Homo sapiens: one gene and its partners. The protein of the gene in region 2 purifies or fractionates together with the protein of the main gene of each other region. This does not show direct contact. Each region holds a gene or a part of one and is shown on either strand. Other genes may lie near its edges.

Region 1 (3,717 bases), on a different chromosome or scaffold from region 2:
GTTTGTTTGTTTTTAAAAAAAGAAAAAAAAGCTGGGCGCGGTGGCTCACGCCTGTAATCCCAGCACTTTGGGAGGCCGAGGCGGGCGGATCACCTGAGGTCAGGAGTTCGAGACCAGCCTCAACATGGAGAAACCCCGTCTCTACTAAAAATACAAAAAATTATCCGGGCATGGTGGTGCATGCCTGTAATCCCAGCTACTCAGGAGGCTAAGGCAGGAGAATTGCTTGAACCTGGGAGGCGGAGGTTGCGGTGAGCCAAGATCGTGCCATTGCACCCCAGCCTGGGCAACAAGAGCGAAACTCCGTCTCAAAAAAAAAAAAGGCCAGGCGTGGTGTTTCATGCCTGTAATCCCAGCACTTTGGGAGGCCGAGGCAGACTGATCACGAGGTCAAGAGATCGATACCATCCTGGCCAACATGGTGAAACCCCGTCTCTAATAAAAATACAAAAATTAGCTGGGCGTGGTGGCACATGCCTGTAGTCCCAGCTACTCGGAAGGCTGAGGCAGGAGAATCACTTGAACTGGAAGGCAGGGAGCAGAGATCGCACCTCTGTCCTCCAGCCTGGTGACAGAGCGAGATTCCATCTAAAAAAAAAAGAAAAGAAAAGAAAGAAAAAGTGAAAGTTTTAAGTGCTATGGGGAAAGAAATCAAGTGTGATAAGGGCATCAGGAGTACGAGGGTGAAGACAGGTTGCAGCCCTAAATAGGGAGGTCAGTTATTATTGAGTAAATGAGACCAAAGGGAAGACTTGAAGGAGATGAGAGAATTAGCCATGCAGAGACCTGGGGGAAGAGAATTCCAGGAAGAAGGATCAGTCAGTGTCAAGGCCTAAGTCAAGAAGGTTAGAAGAGCTAGAAACCATCAAGGGGGAAGAGCGGCAGACATGAAGAGACTGTGTACGGACAGGAAGATCAGGTGCAGCTTTGTAGGCCATTTTTAGAATTTGAGTTGCGTTTTCCTCCGAGTGAAATGAGAAACTGCTGCAGGGTTTTGAGCAGGGGAATGACAAGCTCTTATTTATGTTTTAATAGAGCCTCCCCTCCCCTGCTGCTGCACTGAAAATAGATGGGGGGTGGGGGGAAGGGTGCCCCTGCAGTATTTCTGGCTCAGACCAGTTGGCGGCAGTGAGGTGGTGAGAAGTGGTCAGATTCTGAATGTATTTTGCAGGTAGAGCTGACAGGATTTGCTAATTGATCGGATATGGGGTATGGAGTGTGGGCGAGAAAGAAAGGAGTCAAAGGTGACAGGTGACTCTGAGGTTTTTGCCATAAGGAACTGGAACGATGCATTAGCCACTGAGCAGGAAAGACTGTGGTGGAAGGGGTTGGGGGGAGAGCAGAAGTTTGCTTGGGACATGTTGAGTCTGAGATGCTTATTAGCCATCCAAATGTGATAGAGGGGGCAGTCAGGTACACAACTCTGGGTTTGGGAGAAAGGTCTGGATTGGAGAGACATTTGGGAGTTGGCTACATATAGATGGTATCTCAAGCCATGAGACTAGTTGAGACCACCAAAGGAGTGTAGGTGAAATGACGGAGAAGAGAACAGGGTATCTAACGTTAAGGGGAGGAACAAGGAAAGGAGACTGGGAAAGAGCAGCTAGTGAGGTAGGAGTCAACCAAGAGAGGGTGCAGCCCTGGAGGTCAGGTGAAGACAGTGTGTCAAAGAAGGATGTATGTTCAGGCTGCTGATGGGCCAATAGAGGAGGACTGAGCATTGAGCATTACATGGAGCAAAAACACAGAGGTTCTTGGTGACCTTGACAAGAACAGATGCAGTGGAGAGATGGAGGCCAACGCCTGAGTGGGGTGGGTTCAAGGGAGAATGGGGGAGGGGAACTAGAGGTAGCAAGTACAGATAACTCTTGCGATGAGTTTTGCTGCAAGTGAGAGCAAATACTGGGACTGAGGGGAAACCAGGAGATTAAGAGAATTTTTTTTTAATGATGAAAGAAATAACAGTAGGTTTACCTGCGGATGGGGATGATCCAGTAAAAAAGGAAAACATGGCTGGGCACGGTGACTCACACCTGTAATCCCAGCATTTTGGGAGGGCGAGGTGGATGGATCACCTGAGGTCAAGAGTTCAAGACCAACCTGGCCAGCATGGTGAAACCCCTTCTCTACTAAAAATACAAAAAAATTAGCCAGGCGTGGTGGTGCACACCTGTAATCCCAGCTACTCAGGAGGCTGAAGCAGGATAATCACTTGAACTGGGGAGGCAGAGGTTGCAGTGAGCTGAGATGGTGCCACTGCACTCCAGCCTGGGCGACAAGAGTGAAACTCCCCCCGTCTCAAAAAAAAAGAAAGAAAAAGAAAAGGAAAACATGGGTGTCACAGAGGACCACAGAATGGCTTAATTTATGTCCTTGAGCAGGTGAGAAGGAGGAGACCTAGTGCACAAGTGGAAAGACAGATAGGGACCGAAGAATGAGCCAACCTGCTCTCGGCTAGCAGCTGCCCCATAGCAGTGCAGGCATGGGATAGAACTCAGCTCTCCTCAGTCCATGAGGCCTCCTAGCTCTAAAAGCCCGCACCCAAACGCCCTCACCTGGCTCCCAGCCCCTGCCCTACACCCCATACCCTGGGGTAGCCGGGCAAGCAGCACTTACATACCCATGCCCATACAGTGCCCATACATGCCCATACAGTGACCTCAGGCCTGGCGGAGGGCACTCCCCTCCGATTTCCACACTGCTGCCTCCCCAAGGGGATGGATGTTGGCTTGAGAGGGAAGGGGAGTCTGTGATCTGTGGGCAGGGGTTGCATCAGGGAATAAAGATCAGGTAACAGGACGCCTGTGGCGTGAGGCGTTCTGAGAATGGTAATGGGTTGGGTTTGGTTGCCTCTCATGTTCTGGGGGAACGTTGTCTGAACGTGAATCTCTGGTTCTAGGGCCAGCATCTCGCTCCGTGGAGCGCCTCAAGGAGATGATCAAGGCCGGGATGAACATTGCGCGACTCAACTTCTCCCACGGCTCCCACGAGGTGCGGGACGGGCCGCCGGGCAGTGGGTGGGGCAGGAGGATGCCTCGAGGTCCTGGCCACCTTCCCCTGAAACCCTCGCTCCGCTCCCTCCCCCAGTACCATGCTGAGTCCATCGCCAACGTCCGGGAGGCGGTGGAGAGCTTTGCAGGTTCCCCACTCAGCTACCGGCCCGTGGCCATCGCCCTGGACACCAAGGGACCGGAGATCCGCACTGGGATCCTGCAGGGGGTGAGCAGTGGGGCTGGGACTCGCTGGGCCAGGGCCGGAAAGGCGGCGCCTGTAGGGTTGGGCCCAGGCGTGGGCAGGGGCGGGTCCCGGACTCCGGGGCTCAGAACTCACATCTCCTCTGGCTCCCTCCTTAGGGTCCAGAGTCGGAAGTGGAGCTGGTGAAGGGCTCCCAGGTGCTGGTGACTGTGGACCCCGCGTTCCGGACGCGGGGGAACGCGAACACCGTGTGGGTGGACTACCCCAATATTGTCCGGGTCGTGCCGGTGGGGGGCCGCATCTACATTGACGACGGGCTCATCTCCCTAGTGGTCCAGAAAATCGGTGCGGACGCGCCTCCCGCCCTGACCACATCCGTGCGCTGGGCACATTCCCTTCTCCTTGGCTCCCCCATCAGCCCTCAGACCGATCACACCTTCCCCTGGCCACGCGTTTTTGCCAGCCCGTCCCAGGAGTCCCCAGCGTGTAGACTCTGCGCTCACCCTGGGTTTGGGCTGGACT
Region 2 (5,255 bases):
GAGATGAAAGAGGTAAGGTAGACGGAAGGTCAGGTGTGTCAAGCCAAGAACTTTGGCCTTTATATATGCACATCAGCATTTTTTAAGCCTTAGATTTTAAAATGTTTTGGGAACTTCAGGCTTTCATTGAGATGCATGACCAGAGCTGCCTTGGATGAAGGGAAGATGGAGTGGGCCCCACACACACTTCAATAAAGGAGCTCTACTGCTGTTTGTTTTGTAGGGTTTCCTTATGATTTCCTTTAAACAAAGGGTACAGTTGCTTTAAAATAAAAAAAGGAAGAAACAAAAATTTTTTTAAATACGTAAGTAAAAAGTATGGGTGAGTGTGGGTATGTGTGGGTGTGTGGTGGGGGGAGTACACATGCTAAAATTCATACATACAAAATATTATGAAAGTGAGACCACAGGTATGGAAGATGCAAGCTTCACACTGCCTAGAGAGTGCTAAGCCAGTCACCCCGGGGAGTGGCACTCACTTTCTGGTGAGTTTCTCAAGGGTCTCCTCCTAATTGTTCCAGTGATTTCTTTATTCTCATCTCTTTCCACTTTGCTGTTTTATTTCATTATTTATTTACACAAGAAGTTCCTGTGTATTACAGAAAAATAGAAAATACAGATAAAAAGGTAAAAGAAATGTGACTATAATTCTACCATCTCACCATCCAGTAATAATCACTACAGATATTTTGATTGATTGACTCATAGAGACTCATAGAAAATTTTTTTTTACAAATATGGAAGCCAGTTTGTTGTAAGCTGAAATTTCGCACTCTTAAATTAAAAAAAAAAAAATACCTATTGTGTTTCAACCAGGAGATTCACAACAGACCTCATAAAGAAATATTTGATTGATTTGAGCTTTGACGGATGAGTAGGAGTTCACCAGGCAAAGGAGGAGGACAAGGAATTCCAGACTCAGGAAGCGCAGAACAAGGACCTGGAAAATAAAAGTGCATAGCCGATTTGGGGAATCTGGAAATGGTCAGGTGGGACTAAAATTATGGAAATGACAACTGAGGGAAAGCAGATGATGCTAGAAAGATGGAATGGGAAAGGCCTTGAACGCCATGCTAAGGAGCTTGCCTTGTTCCCTGTGGGCACAGGGAGCCAAAGAAAGTCTGTGGCCTGACTAGCGAAATGAGGCCAGCGCAGGTGGGCCATGGGGAGACTCCTGCCCCGCACCCCACCTTCGTGTGTCAGGAGGTGTCCCCAGCCTACAGGAGGGCTGCAAAGGGGGCCCTGGGTGTCCTCCATGGTGAACCCACTGTTTTCAGAAGACGAGGATGAGGCCCATTTCCAGAGACTGCCCAGCGGCAAAGTCCCCCGGGCCTTTAGCTGCTCAACCAGGACCAATTAGCAGACCCCAGAGAAGAAGCAATCAGGGGAGGGTGCTGAGCGAGGAGAAACATCAGTTTATAATTAGGTGGCCTAATCACCTGTGTAAATTGTGTATTTCTTATGATCGATGTGCTAAATGGCTCAGGTTTAATTAAGTTCTGCTGATTCATTCTCTTTGAAGACCTATTAAAGTGTGAGTCACAGCTTGCACCATTAACAACGGGGAGAGGAGCAACTTGAAAAGGGTGGCAGTTCCCTGCTGCCTCCATCCCCCTCCACTGTTGTCCCCACATGCCCACTCCCTAGGTAGGCTGGGCTTTGACCACCTGCTTCTCGGCTTCTCTGCCCAGAACCTGGTAGGGAGATGCTGGGCTGGATGGGAACCCAAGGGTTTTCTCACTCCTGATCCAGTTCTCCTTCCAGGATGATCCATGCTGCCTCAGAAGTGTCCCCTCTTAGCAGGGACCCAGAACACCCTGGTTTCTCCTGGTGATTGAGAATCCTATCCTATGCATGGGCCAGGGCCATCAATGAGCTTGTATTTTCCAGCCTCTTGTCTAATAACGAGTTTCCAAAATTCTACATGCTGAACTGCATTCTACCTTCTTCTCTGTTCCATATTATGCTTTTCTGCCTTCTCCCACCTTGTTCCCTTATTTGTAACTCTCTGTGGTCTGTAACCCAAGCATCAGCTTTCCTGGCAACCCCTCACAGCCTCCTCTTTTCCTGTAGGAAAGTTGAAGTGCTGACCTTCATCATTCCTGAGCTGCCCCCTTGGACACTGCTCTAACCTCATTTCCATGACTCCAGGCTGAATTCTATCTGTCTCTCCCAACACTGCTCTTGGCCTTCTGATTGGGTCTTTCCAGTCATAATTCCTCACCAGTATGAATTTTAGGCACCCCTCCTTATTCCAAGAGAGGCCACTAAAACTGTGAGACACAAGCACAACATCATCATCATCATCATCATCATCATCATCACCTCTCAAGGACAAACATTTATCCTGAGAATGTGTAGTTCAAAGCTAATGAGAAAACATATTTTTCTCACCAGGCTATGACTTGGCAGGCAGCCCCTCCCCCATGAAGTCAGCAGTCAGGTTGTTTTGCAGAGCAGAGTTTAGATCCTTTCCTTCTTCACCCCACCTCTAAATTACCTTCTTCCAGTACTCTTGGGAACAGGAAAAAGCCATCATGTCTTAAAAGCTGCTCCTTTGGTTACACAAGTGGAAGCTTTGAAATATTTATTTTATTATAGATTCTATTCTTAGTCATAAATCCTTGTTCACCTGAGTTTCCTTCTGGGGTAAATGGAGGAGACGGCTTATTTTCGTTATGACCCGTCTTCTGTTTCTACTCCTCTGTTCTCCATATTATTTCATTTCCTGTATTCTGGTTCCACACCCCACATTCTCTCCCACAGTTCTATAGTCCCATGAAGACCTCAACTCCCTGCTGTCCTTGACACCTCAGTTTTCCAGGTCAACCTGGAATCTTCCCTTTTGTAATTTTTTTTTTTTTTGCAGCTTCCTACAGAACTGCACTATATCATTTACTATCATCTAATATGCTGACTGACTGAATGAATGAAGGAGTAAATCCAATACTATCAAGCATGGCTTGTTCATTTTGTACTCCTGCAGACTGGCCCTCAGTGCCTATTAGGTGCTGGTTACAGAGATGACATTCACTGAGCTCTTGGAATGAATTAACACCTGCCATTTCTCTCTACATCAATTCTGACTGACTTCAGCTATATCCCTTAAACACAACACCAGCTCTAAACATAGAATAAATATCTTTTTTTAAAAACCCATGAAGTTAAAAAGGCAGTGTGGACTTAGGGAGGGAAGGGGGTAGAGAAGGAGAGGCAGAGATGAGGCTCTCCTACAGAGGTGGGTCACAGGCCAATAACTCACTCTAGTGGGGAGTAATGTTCAAAGCCTCACTGCCTGCGACTCCCAAGAAGCTTCCAAAAATCCACAATAGTGAGCGAAAGTACTTTGAAAGGATAAAAATGGATTAACAACAAAAATGAGGGCTAGTAGAAGGGAGTGAAAGCAAAAGCAAACTTGAAATCCCATTTCTACAACTGAGGCAACCGGGCCTGGTGGCTTCCCAGAGAGAAATCTCACTAGCCCTGTCCCTTTCACCAAGTAAACGCGTTCTGCAGGCAAGCCTGCGGTGAGTGCTTTTGAGCCATTCATCCTCCATCCCAGAGACGGAGGATTACAAATGTCAGGGTGGATTTTGCCTTAGTGACCTGATCATTCAATGCCTCTCTCTCCCTCCATTCTACTGATGGGGAGACTGAGGCCCAGATAATGAATCCAGAATGTGGCACAAGTTGCATAGTGGAACCAGGAACACAGCTTGGATTTTCTGATGTCCAGCTCACTGGATTTTCTACTATCCAATGACAGCAGGATCGATCATAAGCACCAAGAAAGAAAACAAGTTAGTTGATTTCTTCAAGTGTTAAACCCTCAGAAGTGAAATCTATTTTTCACTGAGTGTCTACTCCAATTCTTAGTATGTGATGGCTTTACCTCTCTTATTTGGGGTAAAAAGAAAGTGGGCTGAGTGGGAGTCAGAAGACCTCAGCTGGAGCTCAGACTCCCACCCCTCCTTTGTAGCAGCTTCAGCTCACGTCAGTCATCCTTTCTGATGTGTGACATCTGACATTGTACAAAGTTTTAGACGAATCCTGTGGAAGTCTTTTCTGTCCAACAGGATTGAGAGCAGAGCCTGAATTCTACTTTTATCCATTTAAGACATATATTTGTTAAGCTCTCTCGGGGAGCCAGTTCCTCAGCTGGTCTCAGATACAGTCAGTTACAGTCCCTACTCAGATACAGTCCCCACCCTCCAGGGGCTCACAGCCTAGAGATGGATGACAGCAGACATACGAGGCTCCCTTCCCTGGGAGGCTTAGAGTTCTCTGAGCATGAGTGTAAGTGACCCTGGGACAAGAAGTACCTCGGTTCTTAATTATTTCCCAAGAGCGGTTTTTCTTACAAGGAATGTGGAAAAAATCAGGAGAGGCAAGGTGTTAGCTAGAATGGTAGGAATTCCACTGGGCCCCAAAAGTGAAGGTGATCTGGGGAGAGGGTTTGTGCCTTTTCTACAATCCCTAAAATCACAACACAGGGACAATCTGCAGTCCAATTAAGACAAGGATTTTAATTCTGTCCTCAGAAGTCCATGGTCAGGTAAACAAACCCACTGCCACCGGGTTTGGTCCTTCCTCCAATGTCCTCTGTTACCTGGCTCCAACCAGGAGCTACAGGCAATGCTGGTTGAGTCTCCCATTCTGCCAATGGGGCAATCTTCCTTACTCTCCATTGTGTGGCCAGGTTCAAGGACCACTTTTCTGTCCTTATCATAATTGGTCTCTCTGCAGCATGGACCCAGCTGACTGTGCCTTCTTTCAGTCCTCACTTTCCTCCTCCTTCAGAGGCCTCCCCTTCTCGGTCTCTTTGTTGCCTTCCCTACTGCTGAACCTCTACATGGTGAAGGCACCGCAAACTTGCTCCTGGGTCCTGTCCTCTTCCCCACCTACACTTTCTGCCTATGTGATACCCATTCCCATGACTACAAAGGCTAAATAGATGCTGATAGGTCCTTAATTTGAACCTCAGTCCTCAGTTCCCCTTTGAGCTCCAAACTTATCAATGCATCTTCCTATTCCATAGCTTCCTTTAGCTAGCCAATAGGCATCACACATTTAACATGTCCAAGATGAACACCTGATTTCCCCATAATACAAACACATGAACACACACACACACACACATCTTTTGCTCAAGCCAAAACCAAATTGTTGTCCCTGGTTTATCTCAGCCAAAAGATAATCCATCAATCTCACCTGACAGCCTCTCTCCAAAATATATCCCATAATTAGCTCTACAC
Region 3 (3,717 bases), on a different chromosome or scaffold from region 2:
TATGTAATGTTTTAAGACATTTAATCGTTTAGCAAATATTTATGCTAGGCAATAGGGATGAAATATGCTCACTATGTTAAGGATACAATGAAAAGATGTGGTTGTCATCAGTGAACTTACAGAGGAAGAATCAGATCAGCAAACAATTAAAAGTTAGTGTGTGCAAAAGGAATCGCTGCAAATTGAAATTGTTCGGCTGGGTGCGGTGGGTCACGCCTGTAATCCCAGCACTTTGGGGGGCCGAGGCAGGCAGATCACAAGGTCAGTAGTTCGAGACCAGAATGACAATATGGTGAAACCCCGTCTCTACTAAAAATAGAAAAAGTTAGCTGGGCGTGGTGGCGCTTGCCTGTAATCCCAGCTACTCAGGAGGCTGTGGCAGGAGAATCGCTTGAACCCAGGAGGCGGAAGGTTGCAGTGAGCTGAGATTGTGCCACTGCACTCCAGCCAGGACGACAGAGTGAGACTCCGTTTAAAAAAAAAAAAATTGAAATTGTTCCTTATATAAGTAAGAGGAAGACGCAACATCAGTAAGATTTGAGTTGTCAAGGAGGGCTTCTTGGAAGAGGCAACTAAACAGTGACCTGATAAGAGTATAGGAGTTAGGGAGAGTGGAAAGTTTTCCAGGCAAGAATTGGCACTAGTGATGTCAGTAGAAGCCAGATCACACTGTGCCTTGTGAGTACTTTTAGGGATCTGAATATTCTACAAGCCTTTTTAGAAAGGTTTAAGCTGGGAAGTGACATGATTAGATTTGTGTTTTTGAAAGAACATTGGCAGCACTCAGAGTGGAACAAGACTAGAGACAGAGATAAGAGATACCACTGAGGAGCCTATTGCTGTTATCCAGGCAAGAGATGATAGTAGCCTGAACAGTGAGATTACCAATAAGATTTTACATGAGGCATAATTATAAACAGCAGAGAAGTAACAGAAGTTGCCAGAATATGCTGTTCTGGGTGATGGCTGTTTTAGGCATAGATGATTCAGAGCTGCCTGAATTTCCTCATAAGTAGAGTTGTCACTCTCCTTCTTAATAGGAAATTGGCACTAGGACCACACTGACCTGTGTTTTAATTTTAAGGATGTATTATCTTTATTACCGATCTTCAGGTAGTAATGACCCTTAGCATTTTAAAAGTTATTGTTTCTCCCTACTCTTTTCTTTATTTAATTAAGGAAACTCCTTTTTAAAGTATTAAGACTCCTTGTAGACTCCTTTCAATTAATTTGTTCAGCATATTAGTTATTACATATATTGTACTTGCTATGTTTATATGTTTCTTGAATAAGTGGCCATATTTTATGCGTGCTAAATCCCTTTGCCTCTGTCCCCTGCTCCCTACCTAACTTATTATGGGAACATATTAGCCAGTAAGTGATGGTGAGTTCAGACTTTTGCATGTTGTACCATATTCAGAAATGATTTACACAGACTCTCATTTTGTGTCCCGAGTCAGCTGCTTCCCTTCCCTCAACACAACACACTACCATGTCTTTTTTACAGTCTCTCTGGAATAAACTTAGAAACCAGGATCTAAAGCTTTCTCTGCATTACAAAAGGAATCATTGCAATAGTTCCTTAAATAGAAATTTCCCTAATGTATATAAGAAATTGATTTGTACAATCGATATAATTGTACATAATTATCCCATGTAATTTTAAGATAATTATGTACAATTATATTATTTTTCATATAATAGTAATGTCTGACCTGGCCAACTTTCAAAAACTATTCTTTAATTCCTTTTGCTGGTCTCTGTTTATATATAAGAACACAAAACATTTTTAATGAAAATTGAAGCTTTAAACTATCAAGAGCTAGATGATCTTTTTAGTTCCCTTTCCGAACCTCATATTGCATGAAACTAAGAAGTTAAGAATTTAAGGTAGTAAAAACAACCTATCTCATCAATAATCTGATCATTATTTTTATCTTATAATTCTATCAGGGATTTGTCGTTTAACATTTGAAAGTGATTTCAGTTTTGTGTGTATCAAAGTAAAGTAAGAAGTTCCCTACACAGTGGGTAAATAAGTTAATGGTTGGAAAAATGATAATGAAAGCTGACTTGAACAATTTAACTAGACCAAGATCACTAGTTTGTTTTTTTAGGAGGCTTATCACTTTTGATTTGATTATTCACATTCATTTATTTAAGAACTAAATTGCACACAATATACCACATGTTGACTCCACCTATGAACTTGTCTTTTTCAGTGAGTTAACAAAAGGAACCTGCCTTAGGTTTGCTGGAAGTGGAAATGAAGAGAATCGAAACAATGCCTATCCTCACAAGGCAGGTTTTGCCCAACCTTCAGGCCTTTCCTTGGCCTCTGAAGATCCCTGGAGCTGCTTGTTTGTAGCAGATAGTGAGAGCAGTACAGTGAGAACCGTTTCACTGAAAGATGGAGCAGTGAAGCACCTCGTAGGAGGAGAAAGAGACCCCATGGTAATGACAGTCACTCTTGCACAGTGCGCTCGGACACTGAGCAAGCTGTCAATTTTGTGAATTATGGAAAGTTAATAAGATTTAAGAGAGACCATCCTTGGCCTATCTGCGAATCAAAATGAAAGTCAGACCAAAGGAAATGTGAATGTAAAGCAACGTGAGGAACACACCATCTAAGAAAAGTGAACTGACTCTACTTTATTATGTATAAATGTTAAGGTTTCAGGGAGAAAGAAAGGATGAAGCATTGATTATTGGAGAAAAGAAAAAAATGTAAATTAGATATTGGGCAGTGGGGTGGAAAGAGCACCAGACTAGTGGACTTGACCTATTCCTGACCAGATGTAGTATTGTGAGTAAAACTACTAAGCACCACCAATTAATACAGGTTCAAAATACTGTCATTTTTTTTCTAATCTGAATGAAGTATCCAACCCTATTTATATGAAAATCAGCATTTTCCCTTTTAACTTAAATACCATTTGTAACTGTTTGAATTTTCCTTCATATTCTAACAAAACACTGTAAAAATTATAATAACTGCTGTTTCTTTTCTTTTAAAAAAAATTAAAGAATTTATTTGCTTTTGGTGATGTTGATGGAGTAGGAATCAATGCAAAGCTTCAACACCCCCTTGGAGTAACATGGGACAAAAAAAGGAATTTACTTTATGTTGCAGACTCCTACAATCACAAGGTGAGTCGTGACAGAATTATATAATATCTTGCTTTTTGTGTGTGGCATTTAAAATGCTGAAAGATCTGTGAGCCTCCTACAACTGCCACTCTAAAATATAGAAAGGAGTAACAGTCTTTGACAACTATAACCCAGCCTGTTCTGCTCTTTTCTTGGTCCTTTCTTTGCCAAGAGGTTATGATGGTATTCTGAACTAGGGAAAGCACAGAACCAGTTCCAATGGCAATAGCCAACAGTTGTGAATTGCAACCCATCAAAGCTGCTTAGTAACATATTCAGTATATCAAGAGAAGGCAAGTAGCAGGGAAATTTATATGTCATCTAACAAATGAACGTTTTTGAGCTGTTGCATAGTTACAGTGCTTGTTAGTAAATAATTTTGTTTTCAGCATTTCCATTTTTGTCTATTAAATTGTCTTAAGTTTTATTGCATTTTTACTTTTTACAAAAATCAGTGGATAATAAATGTTCATGCAGTACTTCATGATGTGAGACCATAAATTTAATATAATTGAGACATAACTGTCAATCATTAAGTTTAACAAAGGTAGCAAATTCTCAGGCAAT
Region 4 (3,717 bases), on a different chromosome or scaffold from region 2:
TCGATTCCCTGACCTGGTGATCCGCCCACCTCAGCCTAAAACCGTATCTTTAAAATGCCTCAGCCACGGATCATACCTGGGAGGTGAAGTCGTGCTGCTGCAGCTGCCGCCCCTCGCGCAGGTCCCAGGACCTGACCGTGTTGTCCAAACCACCTGTCCAGAGCTTGGTGCCATCATTAGAAATGTCAATACAGCTGGCTCCATCTGTGTGGCCCTGGAATTGCCTGAAAATGTCAAAATGGAGGGAAAGCCCTTGAAAAGTTAGCTTTTAGTTAAAATCAATTTAGAATTCCTTGATGATTCAATTTCAATGCAGGCCTTATTTGTAGATTTCATTTTGGTTTATTATGGTTTCTAATTATTCAAAGTAATAACAAAGCATATACAAAGAGATGCCACATGTCCTGTACTTTTTGCTTGGTTTTGAATACTTAGGAATTCCTCAAATTACTTTTTCATGAAAACATGACTGATATTACTAATGGGAAAAAAATCTCTGAAATTAACAAAAGAAAACACGCCTACACATATATGCACTAACTAAAGATATATTCTGAGACCTATTCTATTACTGTGGTATGAGGGAGAGAGAATTTAATTTTCCCTTTAAAGAAGGACTGGGGATGGCACAGGGAGCGACAGGACCAGTCCTGCCAGTGAGCAGCAATGTGTCTGTGGGTGGCTGTGCAAGACGGAAGGCGAGGCTCTCAAGTAAGGCACCTGGAAAGACACTCAGTGTGAACTACTGGCCCAGGAATCACTCATGGCAAAACGTACCAAGGTCACCAGGAGAAAACAGGGTTAGAAGCAGCTTCTCATAAGAGGCTGCCTGATAAGCAATGAAAGTGATGATTTGTTTTGGGATCTATAGGTTTCAGTACTTTGAAATAACAGATAGTAAAGCCTTCTTCTTTTACACACCTGACTTGTAGCTACCTCTGGTTACAACCTTTTCATACCTGTAGCTGATCATTCTACTTGCTTGCTAATCTCTTAGGGTATTGACACCTAGAAAATCATTTCAGAGCTTTTCCCATCTACCAACACCAATCTTTTATAATCTCATTTGTAAAGTTATATCTATCCAACCTCAAAGGTGGGACAACAGATAATCTAGACCATTTCAGAGTGAGTTGCACCCAATACAGTGCATAGGCCCATGGGAGTTGCTAAATATCTGCTGAAGGAATGAACCTGTTAGATGTGTATGGCACTCAAGACAGTACCATACACTGTGAATCTTCTCAGTGAGGCTCTATCAACAATAATCGTTTGTTAGCAAGCACAGATGGCAAATTACAGATGTCCATGGAGCTCATGGGGTCATGGAAACTTTATGTACATTAATTATGTCAAATTGACCTCATTTTATTAAAACAAATTGGCGATGCTTTAGTATAAGTCAAGGAAGGAAAAAAGACCTCATTTTATGAAGTTCAAGTACTACAGAAAACAAGATTTTCACACTGATAATTTATTTTTAACATCTTAAAATGGACCTGTTCTGAACAATTTTTAGTAAGATAATTATATCACTTTACACACACACACACACACACACACACACACACACACACACACACACACCCATACCTATATACACAGCACTTTGGCAAAATATGGTAAAATCGGCTCCTCCTCACAACCTGGTAACAGATCCTGCTAACCTACCTCACCAAGGTCTGGTTGTGCAGATCCCACACAGCGATGTTGCCGTCGCTGCAGCATGAGAAGCAGACCTTGGAATCGGGGCTGATGGCCAGGGCATAGCAGGCGGGGGCCGAGGATGTCAGCTCTGCCTTGATGCGTGGGGTTGGAGCCGCCAGGTCCCAAATGGACAAAGTACTGGCTTCCCCTCCAACAATTAGGGTGCGACCATCAGGGAGCAATCTGCAGGAACGGATGTAGTTATCCCTGTTCTGTAGAGACAAAAACCATCAAGAGATTACTCATGAGGAAAGGAAAACAGCATTAACATGAGAGCAGAAATCCATAAAAGTATTGTGTTCCCTCCTGGTTTAATGAGCCGTTTATACTTATGACAATGATAAAGTGGATTAATGCTAGAAAATTACATGAAATTAGGGAAGTACTTAAAGTTGATCTACAAAATGTAGTACTGAGATATTTAATCTTAATTAGCATCAAAATGCAAAGCTCTAGACCCACTCCCACCACCACCAAATTAACCAACTGCTTGCATCATTTGCACACACAGATACACACGTACACTAATGCAGGAGCTCTCACAGTCTTGGAGTATCCAAACTTGGAACCTTGGTAGACTCAGGCTCAGTTCTGCTGTTGAAAGGTCCTGCTACTGATGTCAAGAAAGTTTCAGGGGGTAGATCCCTGGCAGTCTGTTCCTTTTGCCTGGGCCTGCATTACGTGACTAAAGGGCATCATGCATTTGATGAAAGCTGCACCAGAGGCAAGACTTGATCATGGAGTGTTAAGTTACAGAAAAAAAAAGTTCCTCCTAGCTCATGAGGTTACGGGAATCTTATGTATATTTAATTATGTTCAACTGATGTAGCCTCATGCTATAGCAAAAATTCTACTAAACTGACATTTCCTAAGGAACTCAAGGGAAAAGGCCAATGAAGCAGCTGAGGGGCTATCTAGTATTTGCCACATGAGGCAGTAAGTTACTCTTTACATGTGACAGATGATATTTAGGTGCACACTCATAGTCACTGTATGGGCTCTTAGTTTGCTTAACCATCAGAGAGGAAAACAAGCGGTTTGCCTTTTCCCATGGGAGGCAGAGTTAATGAAATCAGTATGGTGCACATGCCACACATGAAGAACTAGATCACTGTGTGTCTAGGAAGCAAAAGACACACCTCCAAGTGAAAGATCGCAGTCCCCTGAAGAGCAACTATCCACCTGGGATCAATACTGTGTGGTGTTGCTCATACATACAGTTCTCTCATCAGCCCCTCCTGTTTTCTGAATGAAAGTCTAAGTCTTGTTCATCCATGTTCACTCACCAGACAGTCGAGCTGGGAGACAGGACTCTTATTGCCTGGGTGGCTGATGTCCCAGACCTTGACGCAGCCCTTCCCACCCGTGTACACGTGTCTCGTGGGGTTGCTGATGGTCACCGCGCACACCACCTCCCCGTGGTTGAGGGTGTTGATCTGGCGAGCATGCCGGGGGATTCCAGGTCCGATGAGGGCGTCGGGTGGAAAAGGGACAGGCTGCATCTGACCATCTGCGCTAACATGGAAGGAGTATGCTCTAAGGCAATGGAGAGGAAAAAAGAAAGAGGGGAATGTAAAAAAATGTCACTTAACTGTTCAGTGTAATGAGATGAGAAATAAAACACCTTCAGTGCCACTTGTGATTTACGAACAAATCGAATTTGTCCATACAGTGTAAAGAACATAATTTCCAGAATCATACAGCTAGGCTGCTACAGGGCCAGATCTCAGGCTGACTCTGTACAAGCTGCTGTGGGACATCAGTAGTTACTTAGAATCTCTAAACTAGAACAGCAGTTCTAGTCTCTAAAATGAAGAGAACACTACCTATACCTCACAGAATTAAATGAGATAACCACCGTCAAGTGCAGTAGCCACCTTTCAGGGATGCCCTATAAACCTGCATTGCCTTCTCCTTTGGATGAATCAGAGGCCTGTGATGAGACCTCGCCTATAGATCAATTCATTCCCGGCAAGGGACTTACTAAGGGAGATGAGTAGGCCAAAATCA

The links. The genes of interacting proteins can lie anywhere in the genome.
Region 1: the proteins of ISX (region 2) and PKLR purify together in Homo sapiens (affinity purification with mass spectrometry; one large-scale study listed by BioGRID and IntAct). This does not show direct contact.
Region 3: the proteins of ISX (region 2) and NHLRC2 purify together in Homo sapiens (co-immunoprecipitation; one large-scale study listed by IntAct). This does not show direct contact.
Region 4: the proteins of ISX (region 2) and TLE4 purify together in Homo sapiens (affinity purification with mass spectrometry; one large-scale study listed by BioGRID and IntAct). This does not show direct contact.

Annotation. Positions count from the first base shown.
Region 1 is NC_000001.11:155,294,939-155,298,655, reverse strand, and holds part of PKLR (pyruvate kinase PKLR), read left to right. Parts: intron 1-2,899; coding exon 2,900-2,991; intron 2,992-3,087; coding exon 3,088-3,219; intron 3,220-3,353; coding exon 3,354-3,540; intron 3,541-3,717. UniProt on the Homo sapiens protein: Pyruvate kinase that catalyzes the conversion of phosphoenolpyruvate to pyruvate with the synthesis of ATP, and which plays a key role in glycolysis.
Region 2 is NC_000022.11:35,075,318-35,080,572, forward strand, and holds part of ISX (intestine-specific homeobox), read left to right. Parts: intron 1-479; exon of another isoform or gene 480-654; intron 655-5,255. UniProt on the Homo sapiens protein: Transcription factor that regulates gene expression in intestine. May participate in vitamin A metabolism most likely by regulating BCO1 expression in the intestine.
Region 3 is NC_000010.11:113,899,444-113,903,160, forward strand, and holds part of NHLRC2 (NHL repeat-containing protein 2), read left to right. Parts: intron 1-2,222; coding exon 2,223-2,454; intron 2,455-3,027; coding exon 3,028-3,150; intron 3,151-3,717. UniProt on the Homo sapiens protein: Required for normal embryonic development.
Region 4 is NC_000009.12:79,718,248-79,721,964, reverse strand, and holds part of TLE4 (transducin-like enhancer protein 4), read right to left. Parts: intron 3,244-3,717; coding exon 2,994-3,243; intron 2,393-2,993; coding exon of another isoform or gene 2,327-2,392; exon of another isoform or gene 2,241-2,326; intron 1,920-2,240; coding exon 1,672-1,919; intron 225-1,671; coding exon 77-224; intron 1-76. UniProt on the Homo sapiens protein: Transcriptional corepressor that binds to a number of transcription factors. Inhibits the transcriptional activation mediated by PAX5, and by CTNNB1 and TCF family members in Wnt signaling.